Regions from separate parts of the Homo sapiens genome. Here regions 1, 2 and 3 are each linked to region 4. Evidence: fine-mapped expression QTL. A gene starts in region 4. Each other region holds a variant in brackets. All regions are shown on one strand. Distances are from middle to middle.

Region 1 (8,105 bases), 350 kb before region 4:
GCTTACCCACAAAAGGGGGATCTGAAAGGATAAAAATGGGTTGTTCTATCAATCAGCACCTTAAGTGGTAGTGTGATTTTTTTCCCCCTTCGTGCTGTAGACAAGCTAATTATAGTTGGTGGCAGGGTGAAGAGCCCAGTGCTAGTCTATTTTGGTCTGCAGTCTCATAGTGGAGCAGTACAATTCTTGATTTTTCCATAGTACTTCAGCTTCTTGCACGCAGTTAAAAATAAGCCTGGTTGTACTTTAGAACCCATTACCTTAATATAGTTTTAAATTGAGGAATCCAATTACATATTAAAGATGAACTGCAGTGACAATTTGTGGGAGAAATTAAGGGTAGAGGAAGGGTTAAGCCTTAAACAATGATAGGGAATTGTTGGGACATAAGGGAATGAGAATGTAAACATCCTGAAAAATTAACATTCTATTTTACACTTTTAAAACATGAGCAGATAATTTCTTCACTTGCACCTGAAAGGGTCTGAATTCATTTCATTTCTCGGTGCATGTATAGAAGCTCTCTGCCCGTGGTGTTAAAATTTTGGGCATTTATTTGCGTAAGCGTGCCTTAAAACATCACTATTTTGGATTTAAGGGAGATAAGGCCAGTTGAAGTTTGTGAAAAGACTTCATGAAAGATTAATTTTAACACTGAAGTGTGATCACATTCCAGCATATATAACGGTTATTTATTAAACAAACATTTATTTAGCACTTACATATGCCAAGTGGTATCCAAGCACTTTAAGAATATTAATACATTTAATCCTCATGACAACCATGTGAGGTAGAGCTGCTGTTGTTAACCCCATTTACAGACAAGTTCATAGGCAGCAGCATTGGGGATTTGAACCAGGCAGGCTGGCACCAGCTCCAGCTCCATGCTTTTAACCCTATGGAAGCCAGGCAACTCTCATGGTCTCAGGATGATGAGCAGAAAAGATTGTTCAGGCAAAGCGACACTCTTCAGGACCAGTTCCCTGGCCCCAAGCCCTCTGGGGTTGCCAACCCTTGTGGGTTGGACTAGACTACCTCTTTGCCCTGAGGATTCCCGATGGCCCAGATGAAAGGCAAGGTCTGCTTCCTTGGCCTCCTGCCCTGGGGCCTACCCCCATCCCAAGTGGCTTTTCTCTGAGAGCAGCAATACTTTTCCCAGGTGAATAGAAAAGGTTCCAGACTCCTCTTGCAACACCAGGCCCTTGGGAGACAAGTTCCAAGAGGAAGAAGGCATTCGGAGGTTGGAGATGAAGATGGGGCGGCTCTTTGCTGCTCCTCCCAAAGTCCCACCCTGGCCTCTGTCAGCCCTGTGTTGTCATTGGTCCACATCCGAGAGCCTTCTGGAGGTGGAGCAGGGGACATGAACCTTGACCTCTCCAGGGTGTTTGTTAGTAACACTTGGATTGGGCTAACCCAAGGTTTGCCAGGTTGGAGTCCTAATGGACCCCTTTTAATTGATTAGATAAGAATGAATCGCTTGTGGATGTTCAACTGGATGTTACTATAAGGCTGGAAAATGTTTTATACTCATAAGTATTTCCTCTGGGATCTTTTTGTGCTATTAATTTGCTTTGAAGACCTGTTTCTCCAATAATACAAAGGTAACTGCAACCCAACCCCTGCTTGAATTATCACAAATCCCAAATTAATTGGTTCTTATTAATGTTACTTTATCAAAGACTTTTCATGCATTTCAACATTTCAGTGTAATGAAATCAGATTTAGAAAGGTAAGGCAAGAGAATGAGAAAGGAAAACTTGCTTTTGTCACTTTGTTCTCTCCCCAGAAAGCATTGATGATTTCATTAAGCCTAGCGATCTTAAGTAACCCAAGCATTCACTCTGGTTGCCAGCAGTGGCAACCCTCTGCAAAGCTGGCTTTGTAATAACCCTCGAAGGGTCCCATCAGGAGAGAGAAAGATGGCCTAGCCAAATTCTCCCCTCATCACGTCCTACTCCCCTCCCCTATACAGCTGAGTCCTAAGAGTCCCTGGATCCCTCCTTTCTCCAGTGACTATAAGTATCCCATAACAGAGTCCTCTTCCCACATTATATTGCTTAAGAATTCAGTCTTGCCTTCCTGGAAACACAAATCATTTTAGCATCACTCATTGACTCTGTATTTTGCATATGAAATAACTTTTTAAAAATCCAACCAAAAAGGAAAGTGAGAAAACGCTATCCACGCTAAATAAGGAAAAATCATAGCAGAATACTGAATCATCTACCAGGTGGCCAAAATTCCGACTTCAGAACTCAAAGGACTAGTTTTCGTCATTAAAAACAAACAAACAAAAAAAAAAAACACTCGGCCCTTGTCTCTACCTCACGTAGTCAGATTGTCCTTCCTCCAAAGGAGGTCTCATCATGTGAAACTTATTCTACCCCTCCTGGCCCTGAGTTCTTCCTTCAAACCAAAAAATCTGAAGCCTTCGTAAAAATGAAAACGAAATTTTTAAAAGGGAAAATGGGAGAAAAAAGGAAGAAAGGCCAAGACAAAGATACCAAGAACCTGTGAGTGTCCTCCTCACCACATTCAGATGAGCTTCTGACCAGAATCTAGAACTCCTTCCTTGGCCACCAAAGCCTGGAAGTAGAAAGGCACAAGCCCAGAATTCTCCTTCCTGCCACTTCTCCCCTTAGGAAATTTAAGAATTCTGGGGAGAAGAGAAACATTTTCTGAGATCTGCACTGCTGGCTCAGATGCCCCTCCCCCTACATACAGGCACAGCTCTCTTTCTCAGGAAATGACTGTTCTGCAGGCCCCTATCACCCTCAACTGGTTAAACTACGTCAGCCCTGCTTCCCGGAGTCTCCCCACAGGCTTGGTACAAACCTCCCCTGTGTCGCTGGAAAAGCAGATCTCTTCCATCTTGTGGCCACTGGAGGTAAAACATTTTGACTTCAACATCCGTGAATGACTACAGCTGACTCTTCTTGGAAAGAATGTGCTGGTTCCTGAAACCCTGCCGGCTGCTGTATAACCTCCCGGACCTGAGGCGTGTCAGAGAGGATGCGTTCTTCAGTGCTGAGGTCACCCAACCCAACGGCAGCGCCGGCATCTGCACGTGATGCTAAGGGCTCTGGCAGCCTCCCTGCCCGGACCCAGGAGAAGCATGGACCTGCCCTGGCCCTTATGCAGCCGACTTTGCAGGGAGGGCCTGTGAAGTGAAGGCAGTCTGTGTCCTAGGTCCAGAACACTTGCAAACATCATCTCCGACCTTATATCCCTCGCCCCACAGGTGGCATCAGCTCTCCCATTTGAGGATGCGTCATGATGGCAGAGACTCATTGGTTCATTCATTCAACTGCATTCACTGTGCAGAAACTGATTCAGGCACCGGACATGCAGGATGGATGAGGACAGACATGGAGCTTACATCCTGGTGGGCCTCACAGGCTTCTCCAAGTCCGCCACACAGACAGGCTGAGCAGAAACAATGATAGGATTAAAGAAGGGAGCCCTGGGACAGGAGTCAGACCAGTTGTGACCCTGACTCTGCTGTTTTCTTGCTATGTGGCCTCTCAAAAGCATGTGAGTGTTCAAGACCTGTGTCCTCATCTGCAGCAGCATGGGTTGGAGAAGATGCGGTAGGGAGGCGCAAGGCGGCAGGCAGAGTGCTGGTGAACCTGCTGAGCCTGCGTGCCAGCGCTGCCCCCTGCTGGCTGTGTGACCTGTGCACAAGGATTACGCGCTGTTTTACTTCTCCAGCTACAAAGGAGAGAGCACCTACTTCATAGGGTTGTTGCAAGGATCGAAAAATAATGTCGAAGTCCCAGGAAGTTCCATGTGATACCGCCTCTCAGATGTTAGCTGCTGTTTTAATTATAGTTATTTGCTGGCACACAGCTCCCTGTAGGCTTCATAACTGTCAAAATGTGAGCAGAGGCGGGGTGCAGTGGCTCACGCCTGTAATCCCAGCACTTTGAGAGGCCGAGGCAGGAGGATCACTTGAGCTCAGGAGTTCCAGACCAGCCTGGGCAACATGGTAGACCCTGTCTCCACCAAAAATATAAAAATCTGTAGTCCCAACTACTCAAGAGGCTGAGTTGGGAAGATCGCTTGAGCCTGAAAAGTTGAGACCAGCCTGGGCGACATAGTGAGACTCCATCTCTACCAAAAAAAAAAAGTTAGCTGGGCATGGTGGCACATGCCTGTAGTCCCAGCTACTCCAGAGGCTGAGATAGGAGGATCACCTGAGCCCAGGAGGTCAAGGCTGCAGTGAGCCTAGATCTCACTACTGCACTCCAACCTGGGTAACAGAGTGAGACCCTGACTCAAAAAAAAAAAAAAAAAAAAAATGAGGAGACCTCCAAGGCGACATCCCTTGGGAAGCCTGTGGCTTAAAAAGGGCTGAATAACGACTGATATTCTCTTCCTTCTCTCTTGGCTCTCACAGTCGAGGCTTTGGGCAATCCAACTCCCTCCCGAC[G/A]GCTGGCTCTGTGGGCGGTGGCATGGGCAGACGGAACCCGCGCCAGTACCAGATCCCCTCTCGGAACGTCCCTTCCGCCCGCCTGGGCCTCTTGGGCACCAGTGGATTCGTCAGCTCCAACCAGCGCAACACCACAGCTACCCCCACCATCATGAAACAAGGAAGACAGGTTTGTTCTGCCCCAAGGAAGGAGGAGGATGGCCAAGCTCAAGGCCCAAGGCTGCAGATGTCCCCCCAGGTGACCCCAGGGTGGGGAGAGAGGCCAAAGGGGACTATGCTGGGGGCAGTTGCCACCATTCCTCAGAGGTAACAGCATTGTTCGCGTTGTTCTCTAGCAGACAGAGCAACCCCATAGCTGTGTTTAGGATGCCCAGAGGACCACTTTAACCTTGGGGACCCTGCACAAGAGGACCTTTAGAAAGAAATGCAAGACCTATTTCTTCTTTGCCCCATGCTTGACCTTCTGCCACCCAAATCTGGGTTCCAGGAGAGCCTGGCATTTAGAGAAGTTTCTTGCCCTTTTTATCCATGGCAAAAAGCTCCTTTGTCTCAGTCCCAGCTCTGGTGGAGCATCCACAGGACAAAGTCTGAGAGAGTGTGCCAGGGGGAGAGTTAACACATTCTCAGCCTGCCCAGAGGTTCTTGCTGTGCAGTTTAGAGCTGACTTCTCTGGCCCGTCGCTCATACCCCTCTAGCCCCAGGCCCCACCCCTGCCCAGTGCCTTCCGCCTGTGTGCCCAGAGCTTCTCGAAGCTCTGTGGGTAGGGATTAGGATCAGAGGGACACAAGTAGGTCTGAGGTTCTGGGGTCTCAGGAGAAACTAAGGGATGACAGATCAGCTTAAAAACAGGAAAAGGGCTTCAGGCAAGACGGGCAGGATTCACTACCCAGGGTACCAGAAAGCCCCATCTTCTGACCATTGTCCCCAGCCCCCAGATCAGTTCAAGAAGACGTCACTGCTGGGACACACAGGCTGAGTTGTGCCAGCTCATTGCCAGCTGAGAGTTTCTTTTCTCTCCCCCTCGCTTTGGAGTACATTGTAAGAATCTTAAAAAAAAAAAAAAAAAAAAAAAAAAATCAGAGCCCTGAAATAGTTTGTGCTCTTCGTTGCATACATTTATAGAACTCCCCCATTTCCTAGAAAAGTGGCAGGGAAAAAGCAAAAGCAACAAATGCGATAAAAAGAGTTCTGCAGATAGGGAAAGAGGTGTCCAGATGAAGCTGAGGCTTACAGCAAGGCCACCACTGAGGAGGTGAAGAGAAATTACAGTGAATGGAATCTAAACCCTCTCTCTATAAATAAGCAGATGCTAGCACTGGCCTGCAAGCCCCTTTTCTAGAAGTTAGAGTTCTCCTGGGATCTTTGCCTCCCAAATTCTTGCTGGCGGCTCTGCTCTCCACCCCAGTGGGGCTGAACTAACAAGTTCCCCTTTTGCTTTTCTCACCAGAACCTGTGGTTTGCCAACCCCGGGGGCAGCAATAGCATGCCAAGCCGCACCCACAGCTCAGTCCAGAGGACCCGCTCGCTGCCCGTGCACACTTCCCCACAGAACATGCTGATGTTCCAGCAGCCAGGTAGGGCCCGGCGCTTCATGTCCCCTTGACACAGAGGGGAGGCCAAAATAGATGCCCTAGCAAACCCAGCCAGAAAGTGCTTAGCCTCGACTGTCACCGTGCATTCTTTGGAGCTTATAGAAGCCTTTCCTTTTTTAAACTGTGCCTTGCCAGCATGAATAGCGGCGGCTTGGCTGAGAGCCAGCATGTGGAGCCCCAGAGTTGGTTGCAATCGGATGGGGATATTTTTGATACTAGTCATATTTCTAGATTGATTAAACCAGAGATAGCACAAGAGGGCTTTGGTGGTGGGGAGGTGGGAGGGCTCCATGTGTAGTGTGTGTGTGTGTGTGTGTGTGTGTGGAAAGAGAAAGTGAGAGTGAGACAGAGAAAGAGAAAACTGTTGATGCTGAGACCTTCCCCCTGGTTTGGGCTTTTCTTGCAAAGTGATGACTGTTGTACCAGCCATCTTTCCTTTACTTGGTTAAAGAGCAACTTAGCACACTTCAGATCAATTTCAGCTTTCACTATGCTTCCTAAAACAGAGTGGTTGGAATTATGCACAGCTAATGAATACTTGAACCCTTTCTCTATGCAGGCAGTGATCTTGTAGACTTTGTAGACTCCATGAGTAATAACAAGCCACACAGGCAATTACACTGCACCTATCTGGATGGACCCCCCCCCACCCCCACTGCCCCAAGGCAGGCAAACTGGAGATGTGTTGTACCTGTAGGAAAATGCCCTGGACAGTAGAAACGCTCTGTCCAGTAAGTCCTATCTGTAGGAGTTTAAAGAAGAGAAGTGTTACTGTGGCCTGGAATAGGCAAGGAAGCTTCCTGGAGTTGGAGCTGAGCTTCAGGGCACAGCAGAGGGTGGAGAGAGGGAAGGCAGAGTTACAGGCAGAAGGAACCCAGGAGCAAGACTGCAAAGGTCCAGAATACCACAGCATGGCCCGGAAGCCGTGGCTGGGCCAAAGGGTCTGGCTGAGGTAGCAGAAAGTGGACCCAGGGAGCTGTAAAGGTCGTGGCCGATGGTGGGGGACTTTGAATCCAAAGCTGAGGAGCTTGGACTCTGGCCACTCTCCCTGGGGGGATTCCTCCACATGGGGGATTCCGAGTAGAAGTCAGGCAGGAGGGTGCAGGATGATGGGGTGGGGGGGTAGGCTGGAATTGGGAGGTCAGGGAGGAGGAGGACGCTGGAGGACACACTGCTGGGAACGGCATGTCAGGGAGGGGAGCGACAGCTACCCAGTGCAGAGGCCTGCTCACATTGCTTCTTGACTTCCAAAACTCTGCTCACTTTTGTTTTAAAGCTCCTTTTCTCTATATTTATGCACCAAAATATAACAATATAATTACACATATTTCTATATGCTTAGCTATTTTTCTTCCTGGGAAGAAACATGATAAAATTTGGGGGTTCTGAAGGCTTTATCCCAGGGTCCTTTCATCCCATCCTCTGTTTTCACGCAGAATTATGTATAATCCATTCCCAATAAAAAAGAATCTGGACAAGATTTGAAGAGGTCCTGCGCACAAGGAGATCTGTCACCTTGAATGGGTCTTTCACCCTGGCCTCAGTCTCACCAGCAGAGTGACCACTGTCTTCAATTCTGTATACCTTCTCAAGGCCTTCTTGATTTTTTCCCTTCCTGCCACTCTTTTGCCAGTTCTCAGCCTTCCTCTTTGTTCATACTGAATCTTCCCTGAGCTTTCTCCATCTTAACTGGGAAGACTAGGTCCAGACAGTCCCCTTTCTAAAAGCTGGGTTGTCCCGGAGCGCTTCGGGTTTGTTGATAGAATCTTCCACCTATACCTTTGTTTCCCCTCCACTATCTCACAGCAATGCCAAGTGGCTGGCTTGTGCTCAGGGCAACTATGAACCTAATATCATTTTCACTCTTCATGCAAACCCTCTTGTTCCTGTGGTTAAAGAATCAAATAATACAGAAGTGCTGTGAGCAAAAAGTGACTGTCTCTCTCCCCTCCCCTTCCTAGCCCACAGGCACAACCCCTTTTAGCAGTCTGTAGTTACCTGCAAGTCTCTAAATAATATGCTTCGCACACTGGACTTAAAACTCTGGAACGCTTTGAGTGTTTTTTTTAAAATCTCTCAAG
Region 2 (8,105 bases), 79 kb before region 4:
AATTTGATAAGATTTTCTGTTTCTGTGAAACAATTATTTTAAATATTTTTCTTTTAAAAATAACTTTTTATCAGTACAGAAAAACCTAAGGGATGACTAGCTTACAAATATTCTGTTAAGGGGTAGTTTTATAAAGAAAAATGATATATAGTTATGTTGTCTTTTATAGTGTTAAAATTAGTATTTATATGAAAGTCAAGATCTAAGTACCTTTTCATATAATTCAAACTGATTGCTTGTGATATGTTTTCTCTGGCTTTTTTATTTTTTCAACTTCAAGGTATTAACAGCTGTTAACACTTAAAAAGTACTGCCACATATGTAGCCTTGAAGTAGTTGATCTAATAAATGAGAGCAGGGAGGAGATTCATTGACTCTGAAATGATTTTTATTTTTCCTTTGGTATTTGCTACAGTGAAAAGAAGTTTGGAAAGTAGATACATAAAGACTTGAGAAGGGAATTGTTTAAGGGAAAAGAAAAGAGTAATAATTTTTTTTAAAACATTAAGGAATTGGAATTCAGAAAGGTTACCCCCTTCCTCTGTGTCTTTGTAAGGATACATTTGGAAGAACATACAGTATTCAGAAACTAACCTATATAAAATGTAAACAATATATTGATTGCACTATATAAATGAGTAAATTTTGAGAGGAACAATGTGGGAATGTATAAATTTGTCTAAAATTTTATAACTGTTGAACAAAGGGAAGATTTGAACAGTGTAAATTCCAGAGTTGAGAAAGCATTTAGCATGGTGGAAATGTGGAGAGCTTATTGGTGAGAGAGGATGGAGCTAAGAGAAATAAGATCAAATATTAAAATTAGGAATTTAGGCATTACCTCAGGGAAAAGCCTTGACAGTGAAAAGAAACTACTTAATCGCTAATAGCTAGTCTGGACCAGACACTTAACTGCGCTTTGGGAATCATCCTGGGCTAATCAGGAAATAAACTTGACTTTTCTATTTTTCTCTGAAGCTTTACAGGACATACTCCCACTCCCATTTTTTTCTAAGCCTACAGCATCTTGATTCATAGTATAATTCCTGAAGTATGCTGAATGGACTTTTTAAGGTTCCTTTAGCATTTTTGTATAGAGTTATATGTGATCTTTCTATAACCATGCCATTCACTTAAATAATTCATGAAGGGAATGGTTTAATTTAAAGGAAGACCTAATAGGAAGAAGATTAAAGGAAGCTTTTAGTCAGCCTGTGGCTAGATTTATTGATTTGGTGATCAAACCTGTGCTATTTCCTGAATTTCAGCTAATGGCCAACTGTGGTCAAAGAATGGCTTTCAGTTAAAGTTTTGACTTCTTATTATAAATAATATAAAGAATGTCTCAGTAATTAGAAATCCCTTAATAAGTAGAACAAATGTGGCAAGTAGGACTCCTATCGGTATACAAATTCCATTTCTTTTTATAAGAAAAACACATAAACCATTATCATTTATTCATGAGCCAAAGCCATTAAGAAGATAAATCCAGTTATCAGCTTCCTGTCTCTGAAGTTTGGATCATTTTATAGATCCACGCAATAGAGAGCTTCCTTCCTATGAAACAAAAACCTTGAGATCTCTTTTTTTTTGAGACAGAGTCTCGCTGTTGTCAGCCCAGGCTGGAGTGCAATGGCGCAATCTCGGTTCACTGCAACCTCTGCCTTCCAGGTTCCAGCAATTCTCCTACCTCAGCTCCCAAGTAGCTGAGATGACAGGCGTGTGCCACCACGCCCAGCTAATTTTTGTATTTTTAGTAGCGATGGTGTTTCACTACATTGGCCAGGCTGGTCTCGAACTCCTGACCTCAGGTGACCACCCGCCTCAGCCTCCCAAAGTGCTGGGATTACAGGCATGAGCCACTGTGCCCGGCCAAGATCTAACTCACGCTTACTTTTCATTAAAATATTTCTTGTCGCTTTTAGCTATTGTCAGAATCCAATAAACAGCTTACGCATTCATTTTGGTAAAGCAAATTTCACAGGAAAATAGACAAAATTATAAGAGATTCCTGGAGACAACACAAGGAAAACAATGTTTAAAAGCAAAATAGCCTGTGTAATGTTAGGTAATGTAATGCCCAAGTGAATAAAAGATTTTTCGTCAAGCAAACTACTGTTTCTACTTTGGGGGAAAAAAGTCAGTTTTACATTTGTAATTTAAGGAAAGAACAGAAAGCACAAAGGTTTTTCTTTTCTTTATTAATGGCCTACTAGAAATGAGCAGTGCAAGAGTCTACCTGTACTATTCTAATACAGTAAGATATTGGACACAAAATGGAGGTAACTTTTTAAAATAGATTGGCTTGGAAGTTGAAATGTAGATTAATGGATATAACCCAATAGAAAGGGATTTTCAAATAAAACCAAAGTCTATTTTTTTATTTACTTTCTAATTTTGAACAGATGACTCAGTCCTAAATCTTTGCCTTTATTTCCTATAAAATGTAGGTGATACTTGTAACTCGACTTCCTGGAGTTAATTCTTCAGCAAGAGGTGACCCTGGGAGCGTACTTTAAAATAATTGCTGTACAGCCATTGAGTACTAACATGATGATAGGTTTTCAAAATATCTTTGTAGTGGATGCTGCATAATTACATTCACTTCTCTTAGACTGTAAAAGACTTTCTTGACTTGTTTTAACAGTAGAGATAGCAGTACAATTTGAATTTATGGTTTAGGCTCTGCAATTAGAGGAACAATTGCAGTTTCCTCCTACCCTTCATATGGTCTGTGTAAAACTGATGTTTGCTTAACTTATTTTAAAAGTTGATTACGTTTTCAGAAAATAAAGATAATCACTTTTGCCATGGTTATAATCAAATCTAAGCTTTCAGACTTGAGAGCCATGGTGTAAAACTCAAGGAGGTTTATTTAAATTATGCTGACTTTGCTAGAATTGGATAAATTCTGTATAAGCCAAGTATGAGTTCACATGTACTCGAATATACAGTTTTCACAAAGCTATTACTCTCATCAGTCAGGCTTGTATGATCTATTCCTTACCACAAAAGAAGTAGACAATTGCCACTTTTATTTCTAATCCTTAAGTTGAATGTTTCTTCTTGGATGTAAGTTCAAATAAATTGATCTGGATAAATTTTCATTTCTACTTAATTAAAACTTCCTATGTAAAATCCAAAGGCTTTGTGTTTTATTTTAAAAACATAGTCTTTACTTCACACATTCAACTTAGAATCTGAAAAAGATAGAGAAACCCATATTCTTACATATTTTCTAATTTATAATACACTCCTTTTAGTTTTTTTGTGTTTGGGACTTCCAGAAGCAGGTGCCAAAATGTGATTAGAGGTGCAAGAGATTTATTTGGAGTGAAACA[C/T]CTAGAAAGATAGAGAAGGGAGCAGAAGGTGGGGAATTCTTCATACCACACAGAAAGTCTGACACCTAGAAGGAAGGATTGGGTAGGGGAGCTTCGGACTTCAGTGCATCTTGAGACTGCTAGATGAGGACTTGGTTCCCAAGCAAAGGTTGCCTGTAGAGAAGCCCACAGGGACAGGAATGGCCTAGATCTAGACCCCTCCAACGTGCTCAGCTACTGGCTGATTGCAGGCAAGGAAAAGTTGGAGGCTATCCATTACTGGTACACAGCGCCAGGACTAGGGTATGGTGAGGCACTTAGGGACAAATATTTGACTATACGACTAAGGAAGACAATGTTTTGGTACAATATTGTAATATCTGAATTGATGCAAAAAAGCCTATGATGAGCAAGATACCAAATTTCAAATCAAACCTGACCAGATTACTGATTTCTTGTTGCTTCAGGTTTCAGCATGGCTCAAGGCACTGCTGATTCACTGTCACCAGTGAGAACAGGCTAGGTCCACACCAGTCGTGTAATTTTCCATAGGCCTGTGTGCCCTTACCCAAAAATAAGACTCTCGGCTTAGGTATTTGAAGTTCCTCTGTTGCCCCTTTTTCAGTGTGAGAATTGTGTGTGCTGTGGAAAACATCCAGGGATGTCTTCCTTTAAACAAGTTCATGGTTAAATGGCCACCCACTCACTCACTAATGCCTTACACAAAGCAAGATGCAAGTGTACCACATACTTTTAGGATATTTTTATATCTTAAAAAATGTATATTGGCCGGGCACAGTGGCTCACGCCTGTAATCCCAGCACTTTGCCGAGGAGGGCGGATCACAAGATCAAGAGATCGAGACCATCCTGGCCAACGTGGTGAAACCTCGTCTCTAAATACAAAAATTAGCTGGGCAAGGTAGCGCGCGCCTGTAGTTCCGGCTACTTGGGAGGCTGAGGCAGGAGAATCGCTTGAACCCGGGAGGCGGAGGTTGCAGTGAGCCGAGATCGCACCGCGCCACTGCACTCCAGCCTGGCGACAGAGCAAGACTCCGTCTCAAAAAAAAAAAAAAAGTATATTGCATATATGTATATATTTTGCACACCATATAATTATCACGACATCTTTATTGCTAGTTAGTAGGTTCCTTGACTGGGGTCATGTCATCTGTGCCTGACACAGGAGGTAATGTTTATTCAGAAATGAAGATGGCGGCTGGGCACGGTGGCTCACACCTGTAATACCAGCTCTTTGGGAGGCCGAAGCGGGCAGATCGCTTGAGGCTAGCAGGGTGAGACCCCATCTCTATCAAAAACACAAAAATAAGCCGGATGTGGTGGCACATGCCTGCAGTCTCAGCTACTCGGAGGCTAAGATGGGAGGATTGCTTGAGACCAGCAGGCAGAGGTTGCAGTGAGCCGAGATCGCGCCACTGCACTCCAGCGTGTGTGACAGAGGCCCTGTCTCAAAAACAACAAAAAAGAACATGGGAGAAGAGGCATTGATGAGGAAAAATCTACAAAGAAAGCAAATATCAATTTGTCAAGCTATTTGCAAACGTCTTCCCTTTCCTGTATTAATATTTTCCCTCTCCCCACTTTTGGCCCGAGGATCTGAGTCCTCGGGTCAGGCCGAAATCAGACCGCGTCCATACCCAGCCTCCTTCGAGGCCTAGCTGTAAAAACCGCTGAGCAAAAGGAATCCAGAATCAGCCCTCAAGCAACTCAAGACAAGTTAGCAATTTCCGCCGGGAAGCCGTGAACATCGGCAGCCACTGGCGTTTCCTCCGAGTCCTCGGAACTCCGGAAACTCTGGGAGCTTTTAGCCCGCCCACCAGGGGAAAGCGGCCCGGAGCCGGCGCCAGGTGGAGCCCATCCCCCTAGGCCTGGCGGGCCGCAGTACCGCCAGGGGCCTGCGGGAGGCGCACGCGGCGCGGCCTGAGGGGAGGGGGAGAACGGGCGGAGGCGGTGCGCTCGGCGCTTCCTGTTCCGGCGCCAGGAGGAGCCGCGCGCTGCTGGTGCTGTTGCCGCCGCTGCTCTAGCTGCCGTCAGTCAGGCTGCGCCCGCGTCTTCAGGGCCCAGTCCCTCGGACCCATCGCCGCTTCTAGACCCTACTGCGGTCTCGGATATTGCCGGGTGAGGCTGCTTCGGTACTAGTGGGAGTCGTGAAGGGGAATCGGGGAGCTGGGGTTGCGGAGCCCGCGGGCGCGGCCAAGCGGGAAGCGGGCGCGGTGACCGAGGTGCATCGAGTCACGTCCAGTGCTCGGGCCGTGGTCGCCTGCCTGGCACCAGGACTAAGCGTTTCTATCGGTCGCCTTCCTCCACGCTGCGGGCTGCCTGGGGATCGCCCCCCAGGGAGAAGGTGTCGGAGGCCGCTGACGTCGCGCCCGACGGGTTTCTGGGCGCCTGACGTCAGGTCTGGCTGCGGGGCGGGGCGGGCGCGGGCCGGCCCCTCCCCCACCCCTTCCCGGCGGGCGCGACCCGCTAGGAGGCCGGTTCGCTCCGGTTGATCCCGGACTCCCTTTGTTCGTGCGTCCCTAAACGGCTGCCGGCCTCGCGCCCCTTGGCCCCGATTTCCCCTCTACCCCCACCCTATTACACTCATTCATTAATTTTTAATAAAAAGGGAAAGGCCTGAAAAGATTCTTACAAGAGTCTCGGGCGCTTGTTAATCCGCAGTGTGACAACGTTCTGGTTATGACTTACTAGAGGAATTGCTCACGGATACATTAGATGAATACCCAGGGCAAACCACGAGAAGGGCAGAATTCAGTGATCTCCTTTTTTAGGACTGAGGAGCACATACCTGCGATAGCGTATGCATAGCTGGACCGTTTTCCTCTTTACCTTGAAAAGCAAGAGTACAGCTTTTAATAGGTAAAGATTCCAGTGTTAAAGCATGAAGCCAGGCTCACTCGACCGCAAGAATTTTTTTTAGTTTTACTACTAGAGAAATACACACCTGGGGGTTGTAAAGGTCTGTTTCGAAAAGGAACCCTCATTACAGGCAAAGGTAGCCTTCAGAAACATTTCATAAGTTCTTTGTTCACTGGTGTTCTTTGGGGGAAGAATAGAAATTTTTCATGCTGGCATCTCTGAGCCCACAATGCAAAGCGAGTTTGCTTCAGAAACTTGGAGTGAATTGCAAATATTGGAATGTTCTTTTCCTCACTCCAGGCGGAATGGGTAAAATCCATCCCCAGTCTCTTAACTGAAACTTTTGAAGCTAGTGTGTTTTGAATTCAAAAATACTTGGATTTTATCTTCATCTTTTTAGAAAGTCATGTTAGACGAGAGATAACACCCCCAGCAGAGTGGGGCACCCCATAATCCAACATTAATATTTGCAGCAATAGATGTGAACATTCATTCTAAGTGGGGGCGAATAGAAACTATAAATAGCTTCAGGTCACATTTTGCCACCATGTAAGTTTTGTGCCAAACTAGGGCAGATAAAGATTTATGGACCTAAAAGTAGGCATCATAAAAGCTAATATTTGTTGAGGTTTTGCTATATTCCAGGCAGCGACTAAGAGATTTGTTTATTAAAAGTTTTACAGCAAATCTATGATGTGGGTACGATTCCGATCTTCCTTTGCCTCAAGTTTGGAGAGTTGGACTTGTCAACTCTGGCCGAACCAACCAGTGAAGAGCTGCAGTTATAGCTAGATAATCATACTTTAACGTTTACTTTTTTACCTATAAGCTAGATGTCCACATACAAAGAAAAGAGAATTTGGTATTTGTTTTCCACCCAAGCACTATTTTTTTAGGCACTTGATTGGACAGAGTCCCATTTAGTTCCTCGCAACATTACTGGCCTGGTTTTTATTTGTTTTGTTTTTTAAACTGCGTGCTTTTTACAAATAGTATGGCCTGTTCTTTATAGTTCGGGTTCATTCAGATGAGCCGACTTTTAGTGAAATAATTCAAACCCTCGTCTAAGGTCACTCTGCTAAGACTTTAATACAACCCTTCCCTTTCTCGCTATATTCTAACCCATCTGAACTGCTTATACCTCCCCAGAGATTCTCCCAGTTTTTACACTAACTGCTCTTCTTTCCCTAGGGCCCATTTCACCGCCCTCTACTCCCGGCTCTTTCCTTATGGTCCTTATGGACTGCAAAAGACAGCACATCTCAGGAATCTCCATGTAATACTATAATTTCTCTAAAGGCCAACACATTGTTTGGCATATATGTTCCAATAAGTATATAACTAAATGCCAAGAAATATTGCAGGTTGCATATCCTTTATCCCAAATGCTTGGGACCAGAAGTGTTTCAGATTTTGGATTTTTTTTACATTACACCAGTTGAGCATCCAAAATCCAGAATGCTCTAATGAGCATTTCCTTTGAGCGGCATGGTGGCACTCAAAAAGATTCAGATTTTTGAGCATTTCAAAACCCCCGTTTTTGAGTTGCCCAAATGTAAAAAATGGAACATAAGCAGATAAATGAGCCAATACTAAAAACTAGCATGTATTCTAATTTATAATTTATATTTTCTTTTTTTTTTTTTTTTTTGGAGACGGAGTCGCTTACTGTAAGCTCCGCCTCCCAGGTTCCAGCGATTCTCCTGCCTCAGCCTATCGAAGCGAAGTAGCTGGGATTACAGGTGCCTTCCACCACGCCCAGCTAATTTTCTGTATTTTTAGTTGAGATAGGGTTTTACCATTGGCCAGGCTGGTCTTGAATTCCTGGCCTCAAGTAATCCACCCACCTCGGCCTCCCAAAGTGCTGCGATTACAGGCTTGAGCCGCCGCACCCGGCCATTAATTT
Region 3 (8,105 bases), 320 kb after region 4:
GCTTTTACTCGTATTTTAAGAGGACCTGTCCCTCCTCACAGAAAAAAAAAAAAAAATATATATATATATATATATATATATATATATATATATACACACACATATATACATATAATATATATTTGAGACACTCCAGGCTGGAGTGCAGTGGTGTGGTCATGGCTCACTGCAGCCTCAACCTCCCAGGCTCAAGTAATCCTCCCACCTCAGCCTCCTAAGTATTAGTTATGACTGCAGGTGTGTACCACACACCTGTCTACAGGTGAAAACTCCCATCTCTACACAAAATTTTAAAAAATTAGCTGGAAATTAAAACAAAAATTTTTGTAGAGCTGAGGGTCTTGCTATGTTGCCCTGGCTAGTCTTGAACTTCTGGGCTCAAGCAATCCCCCCCCAACCTTGGCCTCCCAAAGTGCTGGGATTATAGGCGTGAGCCACAATGCCTGGCCTCTTCATAGACAATTTAAAAATGAACCTACATTCTACATTAAATATAATTTATATGTAACAATTTAAGAGTTGAATTGCTTATGATTAGTTGATATTTTATAGACATTTAATCAAATTCACTAATTTCAGTTTTGGAATAGAAAAAAATGTTTGGAGTCAACAGACTTTCTTAGCTCTCAAACAATTTTACTGTCCCTTGAAAAGCTCCTAAGCCCTGGGCACTGAACCTCAACCTCTCAAATGCAGTCACGTCACCACTGGGGCCTGGGATTCTCTGGCAAGAATAATGAAGATGGAAATTCAGTGTTGGAGGGATGTTGAGAAACATTGTTCACTAGGGGGCGCACTTTCATCTCCATGAGGGGAATACCTTCTGGTTTGGGGAGAAAACAAACAGCTTTGAGGGGAGAGAGGAAAAAAAAAAGGGGGGGGAGCATGCATTCCCTAAATGTTAAAGAAAAAAAGGGTAGCTACTTCTCCATGGCAGAAGACCAGAGGGTACTTCCAAAAATAAATAAGATTAGTTACTGTATCAGTCAATGTGAATATATGTGCTATTTTATACAAGGAGGTCCTATTTATAGGAGCTAAACGGAAAGTGCTTGTAGAGTAATCCACATTCACACTATCTTGATGGTTGTTAAATGTGAGGGGCAATTTCGCTGCCCAGGAAAAAACGGAAAAGAATTTGCATAAATGAGATTAGGTTTCTAGAAGCCATGTTGGGAGAGAACTTTTTTTTAATGGTGGCAATATTTGCTAAATGCAGCCTTCTCTTTCTTTTAGAAGCCATGGACATTGGGTGTGATTGATCTCTACATGGAGCTGTCAGTTTCCAGACAGTGATTTTATACACAAGAATAGGGAGGTGGATTTGAGCACTGCACAGAGGCCTTTTCTAGATCAAAATTCAATGAATTCTTGTCCTTTCAGTAATCGTTTGAAATAAAAACCCACAGTAATTCTTCCTCCCCCTTTTTGGTGGAGGTGGAGCATGAACTTCAGCATCTGGGAAGGAGCCTGTGTAATGGCTTAGTCAGGAGCTGCTGAAGCACAACACAGATAACCTTGATCTCCATAGTCTTTGCTCACCAACCCCAGTCCACTGAAAATCTTGAATCATAATGGTGCAGCTTTCCTTCTCAGGCAGTGCTATACACTGGCCATAAAGAAGACTTGCTGTGTTTAAAGTTTCTCAGGAAAATGGCTTAATTTCACGTAATATTAAAGACAAGAATTAAAATTTCACAAGTTTCTTTTTCTCCCTTGACTGATCCCTATTATTTTCTTTCTGTGTGAACATATTCCATCACAGCGTTTCTACAATAAATAATGCATTCTTTTAGAAAGCATATTATAACTGGGAAGTGTTATTTATAAGCATCGTTTTGGCAGTTGTTTCATGGAAACAGAACCAATCAATCAGCACTGATTCTGGGCAGGAGAGAGTTGCTTTACCATTTTCCACGCTGAGCACATCAGGGATGTCTGATCCCAGACAGTAGCTACCTGTCTCCTGCCACGCACAGCAAAACAGGGAGATTAGGTTTTACCGTATTTGCTTGGGAAAATATGGATGAAGATTTCAGCTTCTGTCTGCTCTGAACTCCACTTTTTTTTTTTTTTTTTTGAGACAGGGCCTCACTCTGTCGCCCAGGCTGGAGTGGAGTGGCACGATCTTGGCTCACTGCAACCTTTGCCTGCTGGGTTCAAGCAATTCTCCTGCCTCAGCCTCCTGAGTAGCTGGGATTATAGGTGCACACCACCACACCCAGCTAATTTGTTTGTATTTTTAGTAGAGACGGGGTTTCACCACTTTGGTCAGGCTGGTCTCGAACGCCTGAACTCAGGTGATCCGCCTGCCTCGGCCTCCCAAAGTGCCATGCCTGGCCTGAACTCCACTTTGTGTGCACCTGACTAGGAATGGATTTTTGTATGTGTTTGTACTTGTACTAACAATGAAAATCTTCTATATACATCTACTAGGTACCCATAAAAATTAAAAATCTTCTAGAAGACTTCGGTCTGAACCACGTATCTAGAGCACTGGCCTTCTAGAAGGCAGCTTTATAAAATAGCTCATGGGATTATGTAGGGGAAGATTATGGTGTGTGTAGAGAATTACCAGAGCCACCACTAAAGGCTTCCACAGCTCCTGTGAGGTCCTGGAGAAGCAGCAACCTTTGGGAGGAGGCCGGAGGCAGAAGTGAGTCAGCACACCTACCCAGTTCCTGAGAAGAGGCTCCCTAGGGCCACTGAGTCACTCTTCCCTTAAGCCTGGGAGTCAGCCCCTCCCCTATCCCCTTTTTTTCACTTCTATTTCAGAACCACATCAGTGCTAAGAGGTACAGTGTACAGTGGGAATAATAAAATATAATTACCATGATGACAAATCAGCAAATGATGCTGTTTATGAAAGGAATTCTTTGGATATGCTGTACTTGGAAACACCAGACTGGCAACTCTCCAAGTTGTCCTGCTTGTAAATCAAAGGGAAAACTGTTGGCAGGGAGTTTTGACCAAGACTTTTCACTTCGGGGAAGACCTGAGTACTTTCCTGCTGGTTGAATGTTGCATAGAGGAGTCACTCTTCACGACATTTCCAAACATGTCCCTGTATTGACTATCTCAAGATGACTTAGCTGTCATTCCCTCCTTCTCCCTGATATGTTCGCTCGTCCATGATTCTGTGCGAGATACTTTTTAGAATCCATGAAGGCTGCAAAGATGACTATCTTTAAGGAACTTACAATATAGTAGGGACAATATATGATAATAAAGATAAGGATAATAATAGCACATATGGATGATTTGCTATGTCTGGCTAGTGTTCTAAGTCCGTTAAAACTTCTTTTTATCAAAATAATGCTATAGGCTGGGCACAGTGGCTCACGCCTGTAATCCCAGAACATTGAGAGGCCGAGGTGGGCCGATCACCTGAGGTCAGGAGTTCAAGACCAGCTTGGCCAACATAGTGAAACCCTGTGTCTACTAAAAATACAAAAATTAGCCTGGCATGGTAGTACATGCCTGTAATCCCAGCTACTTGGGAGGCTGAGGCAGGAGAATTGCCTGTACTCAGGAGGTGGAGGTTGCAGTGAGCTGAGATCACACCACTGCACTCCCAGCCTGGGCAACAGAGAGAGAGACCCCATCTCAAAAAACAAAAACAAAAAAAACCAAAACCCAAAATAATGCTAAAAATAAATGTAATAATCATCTCTGTTTCAAAGATGAGGAATTGAGGCCTACAGAAGTTAGGCAACTCACTCAAAGATAAGCTGTTCATACAAACACAATATCACAAAGTCAAATTCAGTTGAGTTTCTTGGCAGTTCATAGGAGGGAGAAATTCCTTCCTGGGGCTAGACATCAAGGCATATTTCATAAAGGAGGCAGCAAGAGACCAAGGTCTTAAAGGGTATACGGGTTAAATTGTGGCCTCCCGAAAGACATATCCACTCGGAACCTGTGGTTGTGACCTTAGAAAAGGGACTTTGTAGATGTAATTAAGGCTCTCAAGATAAGACCACCCAGGATTTAGGATGGGCCCTAAATCCAATGACAGGTGTCCTTATATGACAAAGGCAGAGGGAGATTTGAGACACTGAGACACAGAGAGAAGAAGGCCACACATGTGAAGACAGGCAGAGATTGGCAGCCCCAAGCCAAGGAATGACAAGGGCTGCCAGCAGCCAGCAGCAGCTAAGAGAGAGGTATGGAGCGGATTGCCCCTCAGAGCTGCCAGATGGAACTAGCCCTGCTGACATCTGGATCTTGGA[C/G]TTGTAAGAATACATTTCTGTTGTTTTAAGCCACCCGGGATGTGGTAATTTGTTACAGCAGCCCTAGGTAACTAACACAAAGAATACGTGAGAATGGCTGTGAAACAACAGCTCAAGCAAAGACACTGAGGTGGAAAAATACAAAGGCTTAGGTTTGTTGGCTTTGGTTTGTCTGAAGCATAAGGATCCTGAAATGGAATGTGTTGTTTAAGATGTGGATCATATTATGGAGGGTTTTGAATGTCAGGTTAGGAAATGTAGATTTTATTTGATGATCAGTGAAGAACTTGTTGAGTTGTGTATTCAGAAAATGAAGGTGTCCCTGAGCTAACAGGAGGTAATATGGGCCTGAACTAGGGCAGGGACAGTGGAATGAAGTGTTAAAAGAAAAACTTCAGCTGAATTGAATTTCAAGGAGTTTAATTGAGCAATGAACGATTCGTGAATTGGGCAGCCCCCAGAATCAGCAGATTCAGAGAGACTCCAGGGATGTCTGGTGGTCAGAACAAATTTATAGACACAAAAAAGGGAAGTGACATGCAGAAATCTGAAGTGAGGTACAGAAACAGTTGGATTGGTTACAGGTTGGCATTTGCCTTCTTTGAACACAGTTTGAACACTCAGCAGTCTATGAGTGGTTGAAGCATGGCTGCTGGGATTGGCCAAGACTCAGCTATTGTTACAGGCACATACTACTAAATTAGGTTCTCAATCTTGTCTGCCTATTAAGCTAGGTTACAGTTCGTCCACAGGGACTGAAATATAGAAGTATGGGGTCCTTCTTGGGCCATATTTAGTTTGCTTTAACAGAAGGGACAGAGAGGAAGTGTGTTGCAGGACTCAAAGAGACTTGGCAATCAATAGATTCTTGATCTAACTTGCTAAGTAGGTTGGTTCATGTTTTACCTGCTGTTGTTTACACGTGTTTGTCTTCTGGGCTGCATAACACCCACACTCTAAATGAGCTACCCCAAGTCATTTGGCTGCCTGTCAACTAGGATTATTAGCTTTTTCTGGCTCCCTGGTAATTAATCTGTGTTCTAGGTTGAGGACTTTCCCTTCTCTGTCTCTATTCCGCTTATGTGAGCTAAACCTTTGGAAATTGTTTCAATACCCCATGTCGCCTTCCTTTGGTACCTGAGCTGGGGGCAGGAGGCAGGGTTTCAGGGCAACTATGCTGGCCTCACTCCAGCATCCTATTATAGATCCTGTCTCAAAACACTTTATGCTGAATATGGTATAGAGGAGGCCTTGATCAAGCTGTGACATCTCAGACAGATGTGAACCTTAGAGCCATGTAAAGAAGTTGGACATTACCAATGCCCTGGAGACCTTGAATGTGGTCTGAGGCTTCAAGCCTTATTAGCATCATATTCTGTTTTTTAGTTTCCCCAAATCACACTGACCCTTTTGATCTGGCTTTCTAATATTAGACTAGTGGGAAGAAAAGAAGAGGAACCAGTGTTTACCCAGGGCTTACTCAATGGCCAGATGTGGTGTAAGGTGCTTTGTATACATTACTTCATTTAATCTTTACATCAGAAGTATGAGGCAGGTGCTATTATCCTCATTTTACAGATGAGGAAATTGAAGGGCAAAGCAATTAAGTCACTGCACAAGGTCACACCGGGAATAGAGCTGCCAAGATACAACCTTGGGATTTTCTCAGATATCACACCACCTCTTACCCAGGATATATTTTTTTTCAGTGTTACTAAGGTGGCAGAATTCAGTTTTTGGCATATGTGCAGGATTTGGCTGGTGCATGCTGGGTTTTGACTTTGTGCCATGATTTTGTACGATCATTTCCCCTGTGGTCCCTCCTATAGCACATGCCCTGACCTAGCACTTCCTGGACATCAGCTTTGAGAATGTTTGAGAACTTTCCAGGCTGATGAACTTGTGCTGTTTTCTGAAGGAACAAGAGCATGTTTTAGCCTCACGTGGAAGTTTTCTGGTTGCATGCCTAGGTTTGGTTGAATTGGAAAGAGTGAATAAAATGGATCCTCGTATATAGCCTTGATCTCTGCATTGGTCTTGGAAAAGAAATGACTTTGGTACAGTAACTGTGGGTAGCACTGCCTGTAAAACCTGTGATGTTAGGGCCTCTGTTCACACCCTCTAATCTCTAAACCCAGGCCAATATCCTTAGGAACCAAGCCAACTGTCCTTGGTCCATGCTGTTTTTGTCCCATCTTCCACCTGCTCAACCCCAGAGTGCATTTCTCCTTCTTTCTGCAATCCTGAGTCTAAACGTTGTTCATACCTCCGCTCCAGATCATTTCCTCCATTAAGCCTCTCCCAGCCAGCTTTCCTTTTCTGAATTCCTGCAGCCAGTTTGCTCATATGATGCTCTTGCCAGCTCCCTGATTCTGGGTCTGTGTATTATCTCTTTAACTGACTGTAGCCTCTTAGAGTGAGGAGTGCAGTCTTCCTTCTGACCCCATGGTGCCTGGCATAGTGCTGGGCATGCAGTGGGGGCATCAATTATTGATTGAGATCTACCTTTCAGATTCCTGCTCTCAGAAAATGGAGTAGAATGGAAGGGCTGTCTGTCTCTAAATGATAACAGCACATAAACTCCTGGATGGAAATATACCAACATTCACAGGGGATATTTCTGGGTACCGAGCTTATTGGTGGGTTTCATTTCTTCTTTGAACTTTTGGTATTGTCCAAATTTTCTACAATGAACATTTATATTTTACTTCTTACAAAAAGAGTATTTTATAAAAGTGCATATTACTTTTAAGAGAAAGGACAGTGCCTTTTTTCCATCCCCATTTCTATCTCCTTGATGCCCATGGAGATATGATTTTTCGATTTAACCATGTGCTTCAAGATCAGGAATCTAGATTTCTCTTTAGCCCTGCTATTGACTTTTTAATTTTTAATTTTTTAATTTTTTGTAGAGATAGAGTCTCATTTTGCTGCCCAGGTTGGTTTCAAACTCTGGGCTCAATGATCTCCCACCTCAGCCTCCTAAAGTGCTGAGATTACTGACTTTCTGAGCGCCTCTTAAAACTCTCATTGCTTTGGTGTCTCCATCTGTAAACCTGACCAAGTGATAAAGGAATTCTTATATCTGCCCTTTTCCAGAACTGTAAGGCATTTGATGAGGAAATGTTGCAAAATCACTTTAAAATAATCTGATAAATGTTTACAGACCCAAGTTATTTGGCTGTGCATGCCCCAGATTTCTATGCACCCCATTCTCTGTGCAACTCAGTTTTCTAAAGCACTTTTTGTTGGAAACTCAGCTCTTTGTTTAGAATATTTTAGCCTCAAGAGTACTGTCTTAAAGAATATTGGAAGACATATGGGATTTCTGCTGAAAAGTACCATACTAGGACTGTATACTGGGAGGCAGAATAGTGCTGTGGCTAAAAGTATAGGCTTTGGACTCAGTGTCCCTTGTCCTGAGAATGTTTGAGAACTTTCTGGGCTGATGAACTTGTGCTGTTTTCTGAAGGAGCAAGAGCATATTTTAGCCTCACGTGGCAGTTTTCTGGTTGTATCCCTAGGTTTGCTTGTATTGGAAGGAGCGAATAAAATGGGGCCAGGTGCGGCGGCTCATGCCTGTAATCCCAGCACTTTGGGAAGCTGAGGTGGGAGGATCACCTGAGGTCAGGAATTCGAGACTAGCCTGGCCAAGATGGTGAAACTCTATCTCTACTAAAAATGCAAAATTAACTGGGTGTGGTGGTGGGCACCCATAATCCCAGCTACTCAGGAGGCCGAGGCTGGAGAATCACTTGAACCCAGGAGGTGGAGGCTGCAGTGAGCCGAGATTGCACCACTGCATTCCAGCCTGGATGACGGAGGGGGACTCTGTCTCAAGAAAAGAAAAAAAAGCGTCCTCTTATATAGCCT
Region 4 (8,105 bases):
CCCTTCTCTGATATGGGATGAATTGTGTCCCTCTCTCTTTGCAAAAACATTTATGTCAGTACCATCCGAGCCCCGGATACGTCAGAATGTGACTGTTTTTGGAGATAGGGCCTTTAAGGGGGCAATTAAGTTAAAATGAGGTCTTAATCTAATACGAATGTGTCCTTCTAACAAGAGGAGATTAGGACACAGACAGGCATATAAGAAAGACCATGTGAAGATATAGAGAGACGTAAAAGCCAAGGAGAGAGGCCTCAGAAGAAACCCACCCTTCCAACATCTGATCTTGGACTTCTGGCCTCCAGAATTGGGAGAAAATAAATTTCTGTTATTTAAGTTACTCAGTTCCTGGTGCTTTGTTATGGCAGCCTTAGCAAGCTGGCACACTCTCTATCCCTTTCCCTGGTTTTATACTTCCTCAAGAGGCAGGTTAATGCTGTAGCGTGGTTAAGAGCGTAGCCCTGGGTGTGGCTGCAATAAGGGCAGTAGTAGTGGCAGCAGCCACTTCCTGTCTATAGACAGAAGTGACTGGTGGGAATGTGGGTTTGGTGATGGCTAGTGCTGAAGACAGGCCTGGGTTAGGCTTGAAGGACAAACAAGGAAGGTTAGGCTGAGGTGGCCAGGGCTGAGGTTGGGCTGGAGAAGGGGTTTTGCACCTGCGGTGGCACCTGGGACACCTCTTCTCCCTGATGCTGTTGGCCTGCCCATCCAAGGCAGGAGGGGCTAGCTCCCTTCTAAGCAGGTTCTGGCTCTCACTCTGTCCCAGGGGGCTCTAGTTGCAACCCAGGTGGTAAGACCTTGTAAACCATCATTGGGCACATTACTGCCACCAACCCTATTTCATTTGTTGACCAGGTTTTGGTGAGCCTGTTCATTCAGCAAGCTAGAAGGGGTGGATTTTGCAAAATAGTTGAGGCATATATTAGGCCCCCACTAAAGGCCTTGGATATGAGTAAGTACATATAGATAACTGGGACTAGAAACAGCAGACAGCCACAGTCATTTCGTTCTGAAACTGGAAATTACTTTGTCTTCAAGGCATAAATGGTTCCCCAGAACACTCAGCCTCTCTTTCAGTCCCTAAGTCTGCCAGCCACCCAGATTCCAGTTGTTGGCACCAGAAAGACCAAGTGCCCTGAGGCCTGACTCAACTCTTCACTTGTCACCCAGATGTGTTAACACCATGTAGACACAGAATTGCCAAACTTGCCTGGGCTGCCCAGGGTCCAAATGTGAAAACTGGAAAGCAGCCGCTTTGCTCTTTTCTGGCTGTTCCTGTATTCTGCTGTCTACACGACTTAATACCAAGATTTTTGTTTATATTTCATAGGAACTTCAGCTTTTGTGAGACATTCTTTCCCTATCTGGCCCACTGTAGTGCTAATTTCTGGGAAATTTCTCTCCTCTTTTCTGGCTTGTTCCAGGTTCACTCACTTTTTATATTTTCATAATTCTTCTATTCTCCTCTCTTTTTCCTTTCTCTCTGGTTCTATTTTCCTATTTAAAAGGTGACTTTAAAAAACTGGCTTTGCTGCCGGGCGCAGTGGCTCACGCCTGTAATCCCAGCACTTTGGGAGGCTGAGGTGGGCAGATCACCTGAGGTAGGGAGTTTGAGACTAGCCTGACCAACGTGGAGAAACCCCATCTCTACTAAAAATTGGCCAGGGTGGTGGTGCATGCCTGTAATCCCAGCTACTGGGGAGGCTGAGGCAGGAGGAGAATCACTTGAACCTGGGAGTGGAGGTTGCGGTGAGCCGAGCAAAACTCCGTCTCAAAAAAATAAAATAAATAAATAAATAATCGGCTCTGCTTTCTTCTCCAATTACTGTCTTTCTTTCTCTTTTCTGCTTATCCTTAAAGACTTTCCCTTTTTGTTCTCATCTTCATCTCCTACTCTCTTCTGGCTCTAACTGAAGTTCTCACGCAGCTTCCCTCCTGACCTTCTGGACAGCCACCTGCTTTCCCAAGTTTCCTCCTTTCCCTCCTGTGGAGATGCCTCTCTTAGAATCCTTGCTTTTATCAGCGGCTTACAATCTCTGCATCCGTAGAAACCAGACAGCCTTTTTGTTTGAGGGCTAACACTTGCCTTGTCCCTATTTCAAATAACACAGTGAGCTGTACATAGAAGTTACTCAATGATATCTTAATTGATTTTATTGGGTTCCTTTTTACGCTTATCTTAGAAAAGGGATGTGACTTTGGATTGGGTAATAAAGAGCCGTTTATTGCATGTGTACAAATTATAAATTCCCAGGCACACCCTGATCATAGCAGGATCCTTTTGTTAGCTTTATGGGGCATGAAGTTGGCACCAAAGTATTCATGGGGATGTACAAGTAAGGAAGGGAAGCCAAAAGCATGTCTGATCATACAATCAGGTGTAAGCAAGCCCCCTAAGTAGCCAGGGCATGAACTTTGTCTATCTCTGAAATGACCAGAAGAAAAGGCAAGAGTGTGATTCATCCCTTGCCTCCACAGCAATTCATTTGGCTATCTACTTTTCTTATTACCAATGGCTAACCCTCTAAGGGTACCACTCCTGGCCATGAGGCCTCATGACTCAAAGTCTTAAGATTTATAGCATTTTCCCTGGAGACCAAGGGCATTCCTTTGGGTGATACCTTTTTACTACCCAGAGGTTAGTCATTTACTATGGGTGATCCATTCAAATAAATTGGTTGCCAGGCTACCTCTTCAGATAAGAGTTCAAACTTGCATAAATAATCCCCAGCCACACTGTGACTTCTATGTGCAAGCCTAGAGGGGACGATGTTGCAGGAACCGTGCCAACCACTAAGACACTTTCAAGTTTATCCTAGAGAATGCCAAGACAGCTTCTCAATTCCATCAAGTGAGTCCTTCACAGGAACATTTCCCTAAGTTGAAAAACTGCAGGAAATAATTTATCTTTATGTTATTAATTGGTTACTATAAGGGCTACAGGAATTATTTAGGAACCAGATGATACCTGGTTTTCTCCATAGTTTACATAAGCCAGTCCCTGCAAAGATTCTTCCCCTACCCCCCTTAATTTTTTTTTTTTTCCTCAGAGATCCTTGTTCCAACCTGCAAGGATTCTTTGGCCTGGTGCTTTTCCAGGTAAAGTGTAAGAGCCAGGATTTCTGGATTTTGTTCCTAGACATGAGTGAGCTTGGATAAGTAAATCATTTTCTCTTTTAGTCTGTTTGGGCTTCTGTAACAAAATATCATAAACTGGGTAGCTTATAGGCAATATACATTTATTTCCCACAGTTCTGAAGGTCGGGAAATCCAAGATCCAGGCCAGCAGATTTGATGTCTGGTGAGGGCCTGCTTTCTGGTTCACAGAGGGAGCCTTCTGGCTGTGTCTTCACAAGGTGGAAGTGGCAAGGGGTCTCTCTCCGGCCTCTTTTATTAGGGCACCAATCTCATTCATAAGGACCCTGCCCCTATGACCTAATCACTTCCCAAGGCCTCCACTTCCTAATACATCACCGTGAGGGTTAGGATTTCAACATATGAACTTTGGCGGGATATAAACATTCAGACTATAGCACCCTGACAGTAAAAATGAGATAATAATACTTATCTCTTTCTTCCAACAAAAAGATAAGGTGAAGTTAAAAGGAGGGTATATATATATATAATGTGAATTTCCTGTGTAAAATGTGTTAAAGAGTTGTCTGATTAATTGCTTTATAAGGGAATTGCTTTGAGACTAGGCCTATTGATCTAGAATAAGTAGTCAATTTGTAGTCAGTTCCCTAGGGAATAGACATTGAAAAGATTTTTGGTTTTGTATTCTACAAATAAAGCAACCTATTAATTGAATTCCTCTCAGCGAATTCTTCACTCAGGTGATTCTGGAGAGGGCGGGGGACAGACGCGGCCGCAGCCCAGGTCCCGGGAGCGCCACGGAACCTAACGGTGGCAGCGGAGGTCGCGCCCCTCAGTGCCCGCGCTCTCCCCGTCGGGAGCTTCCTGGTCGCCCCTGCGGCGGCGGCTCGGGGTGTCTGGCCGGCGCGGGGCTCGCCCAGCCTGGTCCGGGGAGAGGACTGGCTGGGCAGGGGCGCCGCCCCGCCTCGGGAGAGGCGGGCCGGGCGGGGCTGGGAGTATTTGAGGCTCGGAGCCACCGCCCCGCCGGCGCCCGCAGCACCTCCTCGCCAGCAGCCGTCCGGAGCCAGCCAACGAGCGGTGAGCTGCGCGGGGCGCGGGGGACGCGGCTCCGGCCGGGCAGGGGAGAGGGCGCCCGGGCGCTGCTTGGGGCGCGGTCCGGAGAGGGTTCGGCTCCCCGGGACCGGGCCGGGGCGCGCGCGGAGAGCCCCACAGCCTGTGCTCTGCCCTCCAGGAGCGGGGCGGCGGGCAGCGATCTGGGCCCGGGGCAGTCGCCTTTGATTATCGAGGGCGCTGGCGTTCGGGGAAGGTTGGCAGCACCTTACGAGACCCACACACGTCCCCGGGGCGGCACGGGCCACCTTCTGCGGAGCCTCGTGGGCTTCGCCGCCGTCGCACCTCCGCCGCCTGCGCTCTGCGGCCCCAGAGTAAGCCCCATCCGGTGACGAGCCGCAGTCTGGTCACCCCAGTCCCACCAGGTCCCGCTGCGAGGGGAGGCGGAGGGGCTCGCTCAGCAAACCAGACGGCCGCTCCAGTTTCTCTAATTGGGGTTGGAGCCCCGTCACCCTTCCCCAGATCACGGCCGCGGGGGAGCGAAGGGACTTCCCAGGACTGCATAGGGCGCCTCCCGGGACCCACAGCTTGGCTGGCCCGGCCCCTTTTGAGCATCAGCTGAGGCTGGACTTGGAGGAGATCTCGCTGTGGAGCGCGAATGAGTTCTTCCACCGGGACCAGCTGCGGCCGGGCTGCAGCCGCTGTCTGGTTGCTGATCCCACAGAAAATGGTGCTTGCCCCATGGCCTGAGTGGGCATGACCCGGCTTTGCAAAGACTGCAAACTCTAAGCTTTTCCGAATCAAATGCCCCTCCCTGCCCAGACTGTCTGTGCCCAGGAAATGGTGGGTGTGGCAAAATGTTGGTCCTAGCGTGCAGAGCCCTACCGGGGGGCTTTCACAACATGTTTGAGAGTTTATTCTGAATTATCGGGTGCTCAAATAGAAACACTAAAACGATTGCCCTCTGAGCAGTAGGCGTTCAGGTCCAGGGAGTCGGGGACGCATGGTGGAGGCTGGGACTTAGGTTTCAGCCTTACCCTTCAAGTTCGCCATGCGGGTTCCAGAGACTGCGGAATGTTTGTAAAGTGACTCTGGGAATTGGGTTGCTGCGCAATGAGGACACCTGGACCTCAGTGACTCAGGCTGTCTCTAGGATTCTGGGGAAGAAATGGGAGAAGGCTCAGTTAATTCTGAAGAAAATGAGACTGATACAATTAACTACTTGGGCACAGGGCCTGAGAAGAAAAAGCTTTCGTCAGCTTCCAAAGTTCTGATTTGTTTACCTAAGGTTTTTTTTTTTTTTGAGACGCAGTTTCGCTCTTGTTGCCCAGGCTGGAGTGCAACGGCACTATCTCGGCTCACCGCAACCTCTGCCTACCGGGTTCAAGCGATTCTCCTGCCTCAGCCTCCCGAGTAGCTGGGATTACAGGCATGCGCCACCATGCCCGGCTAATTTTGTATTTTTCGTGGTGGTGGTGGTGGGGGGGGGGGGGTCCCTCCATGTTGGTCAGGCTGGTCTCGAACCCCCGACCTCAGGTGACCCGCCTGCCTCGGCCTCCTAAAGTGCTGGGATTATAGGCGTGGGCCACTGCGCCTGGCCTACCTCAAGTTTATAAACATTTCATACTAGGAAATTGTGTGTTTCCATAAAAGGTAAAGTTGAATAATGATCATTTACTTTTCTACAACAATAGTCTCCCTTTTAGACATTGACTCTCAATCCTTAGGGTAGGGTCTCTCATTCTAAAGATGATCATACCCCATCCTTGATCTTTGGGGGACTTAAGCAACTTCCTAAATTCATAATATTTAGAGGTGATGTTTAAAATCAGCACTTAGTCCAGATTCTGGGGAGAAGTTTGATGATGGTCCTTGAATATTTAGCACTTAGAAGTGCTAGGAGGATGCCTCACTAAGTTACGTAAGAAGCAGAAGAGGACGAGTACCGCCTGATGGATTGACCCCGAAAACTAGCTGTGTCCAAGTAGAATAGGTGTCTCGCTCTGTTAAGCGGTCTTTAAACTATGATAGTTCGCTGTACTACAAATATGCATAGGTGCTTTACAAAGACTTTTCACTTAGTGAGGTCAAGAGGCTAATGCTGGTCTCATGTATAATTTAGGTACCTTTTTACATAGAACCCTCATTAGCCAGACTCTAAACCTTAACTGCAGCCAAGACCTTTGTTCATGTAGTATGCCTTCAGAATCTCGTGTTGACCTTAAATGCCAAGTGGCTTGTAAACTTATGTACTTGATACTTGTGGTAACTGATCTCAAACATAGCTCTTCTTTCCTGTGATCGTTTGGGACACAGGCTCCCACTCAAGGGTAGCTCCTTGTGTCTGGTGCCTGAACTGGATCTTCTCATTAAATTCTGAGTGGGTAACTTAAGAACCAGTCTAGGCTGTGCTTGCTGTATACTTCCAGTTCGCTATTGACCAAGTGTCATGTGTTCTCTTTTGAACTGTTCAGCTTTTCCGTAGGGGGGAAGATCAGTCATGAGAAGCAGAAAGTAACTCTACCTTCCTTGATGCCAGGGAGCTATGATGAGAAAGAAATCCTAGGAAAGGACCAGTTCCCCTTATTCCAACTTAGCATCACTGAATTTGTCTTTGGCAAATGGGCTTTCCTCAAGTCCTGCTCTGTGTTTCAGCAAGGACAGGAAGTAGACTGCCTCTTGTGTTACTTGAGGAGCAGTGTAGGGCAGTGCCTAGGGGCTCAGGAAGTAGTCTTCTTCTGTGACGGTTGCGCACAGGTCAGGGACCTTTATGAGCAGACATTTCAGAAGTGTTCCTGGGAACCCAGACAACTGGACTGATTGCTGGGTGGGCCTAGAATAGCATAGTGCAGCGGATAGCTACTCTTTGTTAAAGGGAAAAGCTACCAATTAACAGCCGATTAAAATGGTCTGTATTCTAACTCATGTTTAAATTCCTTATTCTGAAGCTACACTGAACTGCTTACTGTAGGTGTTTACAAATGTGGAGACCCAGCTAGTATTTCTCTACTTTTAGTTTATTTTTTGAAGTTTTTTTTTTTTCCCCTCTGACTGTTCAAAATTCTCTGATCCTGGAAACACCAGGGTGGGGTTCACATATCTATAGTGTCTGTAGAGTGGGAAGATTTGTGACATTTGATTGTATGTCTCTCTCTGTAAACTACTCATCTGAAAAGAAAAAAGAAAAAAATTTCAGGCAAGTAAGGATGATACTTATCTGAATAGATGTCTTTTTTGTTTTCCTGAAAGTTTTGAGGTTAATAATCTTGATTTCAAAAGAGCATCAGTTATAATGCTTTTCTTTTCTTTTTCTTGAGATGGAGCCTCGCAGTCTCCCAGGCTGGAGTGCAGTGGTGCCATCTTGGCTCACTGCAACCTCTGCCTCCCGGGTTCAAGCGATTCTCCTGCCTCAGCCTCCTGAGTAGCTGGGATTACAGGCGCCCACCACCACACCTGGCTAATTCTTTGTATTTTTAGTAGAGATGGGGTTTCACTGTGTTGGCCAGGCTGGTCTCAAAACCCTAACCTCATGATCCTCCTGCCTTCGCCTCCCAAAGTGCTGGGATTACAGGCATGAGCCACTGCACTCGGCCTATAATGCTTTTCAAAAAAGAAATCTCATGGTTGGAAGTTGACGGGGCATACCCAATTTTTGGAAAAGTACACTTTATTGGTTAAAATGTCATTATAATTAGCAAATGACTATACAAAATGGCATTCTTGTATTCAATATTCAATATTATTTTGTGCTTGAATGAATCACCCAGTTAGTTTTCTGACCAAAACACAATCCTTTTTAAAAAATTTGTTTACAATTTCAGTATGTTATGTAGTTACAGATGAGTAAGTCAGAGAATTAATTTCACAATGAAGTAATTAACACTTTCAAAGGACTGTACTTTAAAATTTCAAAGTGTGATGTTTTCTATTGGTGTAGAATGAGCCTAAATAAGGAGTAA

Direction of the effects. Positions count from the first base shown, and alleles are read on the strand shown. Sizes are in standard deviations (SD) of each study's normalised expression. Not every link is listed here.
For the expression in tibial nerve of the gene that starts at base 4,125 in region 4, T is the low allele of the variant in region 2 and C is the other (moderate effect, 0.69 SD a copy in GTEx).

The links.
Region 1: its variant is fine-mapped to the expression of LGALS3 in tibial nerve (GTEx, PIP 0.99).
Region 2: its variant is fine-mapped to the expression of LGALS3 in tibial nerve (GTEx, PIP 0.99).
Region 3: its variant is fine-mapped to the expression of LGALS3 in whole blood (INTERVAL, PIP 0.99).

What each region holds. Positions count from the first base shown.
Region 1 is chr14:54,770,535-54,778,639 of GRCh38, forward strand. It overlaps SAMD4A (sterile alpha motif domain containing 4A), which reads left to right. Exons shown (of 13, transcript NM_015589.6): 10 at 4,400-4,601; 11 at 5,880-6,006. Among named protein-coding and RNA genes, the nearest start is that of SAMD4A-AS1, 87 kb to the left of the region's middle. RefSeq lists enhancers at 2,458-3,657, 2,941-3,869, 3,743-3,792. The variant G/A (reference allele first, on the strand shown) is at 4,433.
Region 2 is chr14:55,046,346-55,054,450 of GRCh38, forward strand. SOCS4 (suppressor of cytokine signaling 4) reads left to right here. Exons shown (of 3, transcript NM_199421.2): 3 at 1-3,144. MAPK1IP1L (mitogen-activated protein kinase 1 interacting protein 1 like) reads left to right here and starts at 5,302. Exons shown (of 4, transcript NM_144578.4): 1 at 5,302-5,458. RefSeq lists enhancers at 4,664-5,353, 4,893-5,092 and silencers at 5,123-5,362, 5,713-5,872. The variant C/T (reference allele first, on the strand shown) is at 3,342.
Region 3 is chr14:55,445,552-55,453,656 of GRCh38, forward strand. No RefSeq gene overlaps it. Among named protein-coding and RNA genes, the nearest start is that of TBPL2, 9.0 kb to the left of the region's middle. RefSeq lists enhancers at 705-794, 1,869-2,369, 2,134-3,333. The variant C/G (reference allele first, on the strand shown) is at 4,233.
Region 4 is chr14:55,125,128-55,133,232 of GRCh38, forward strand. LGALS3 (galectin 3) reads left to right here and starts at 4,125. Exons shown (of 6, transcript NM_002306.4): 1 at 4,125-4,173. It overlaps LOC124903319, which reads left to right. Exons shown (of 3, transcript XM_047432036.1): 3 at 1-340. RefSeq lists a silencer at 3,821-4,420 and an enhancer at 4,771-4,960.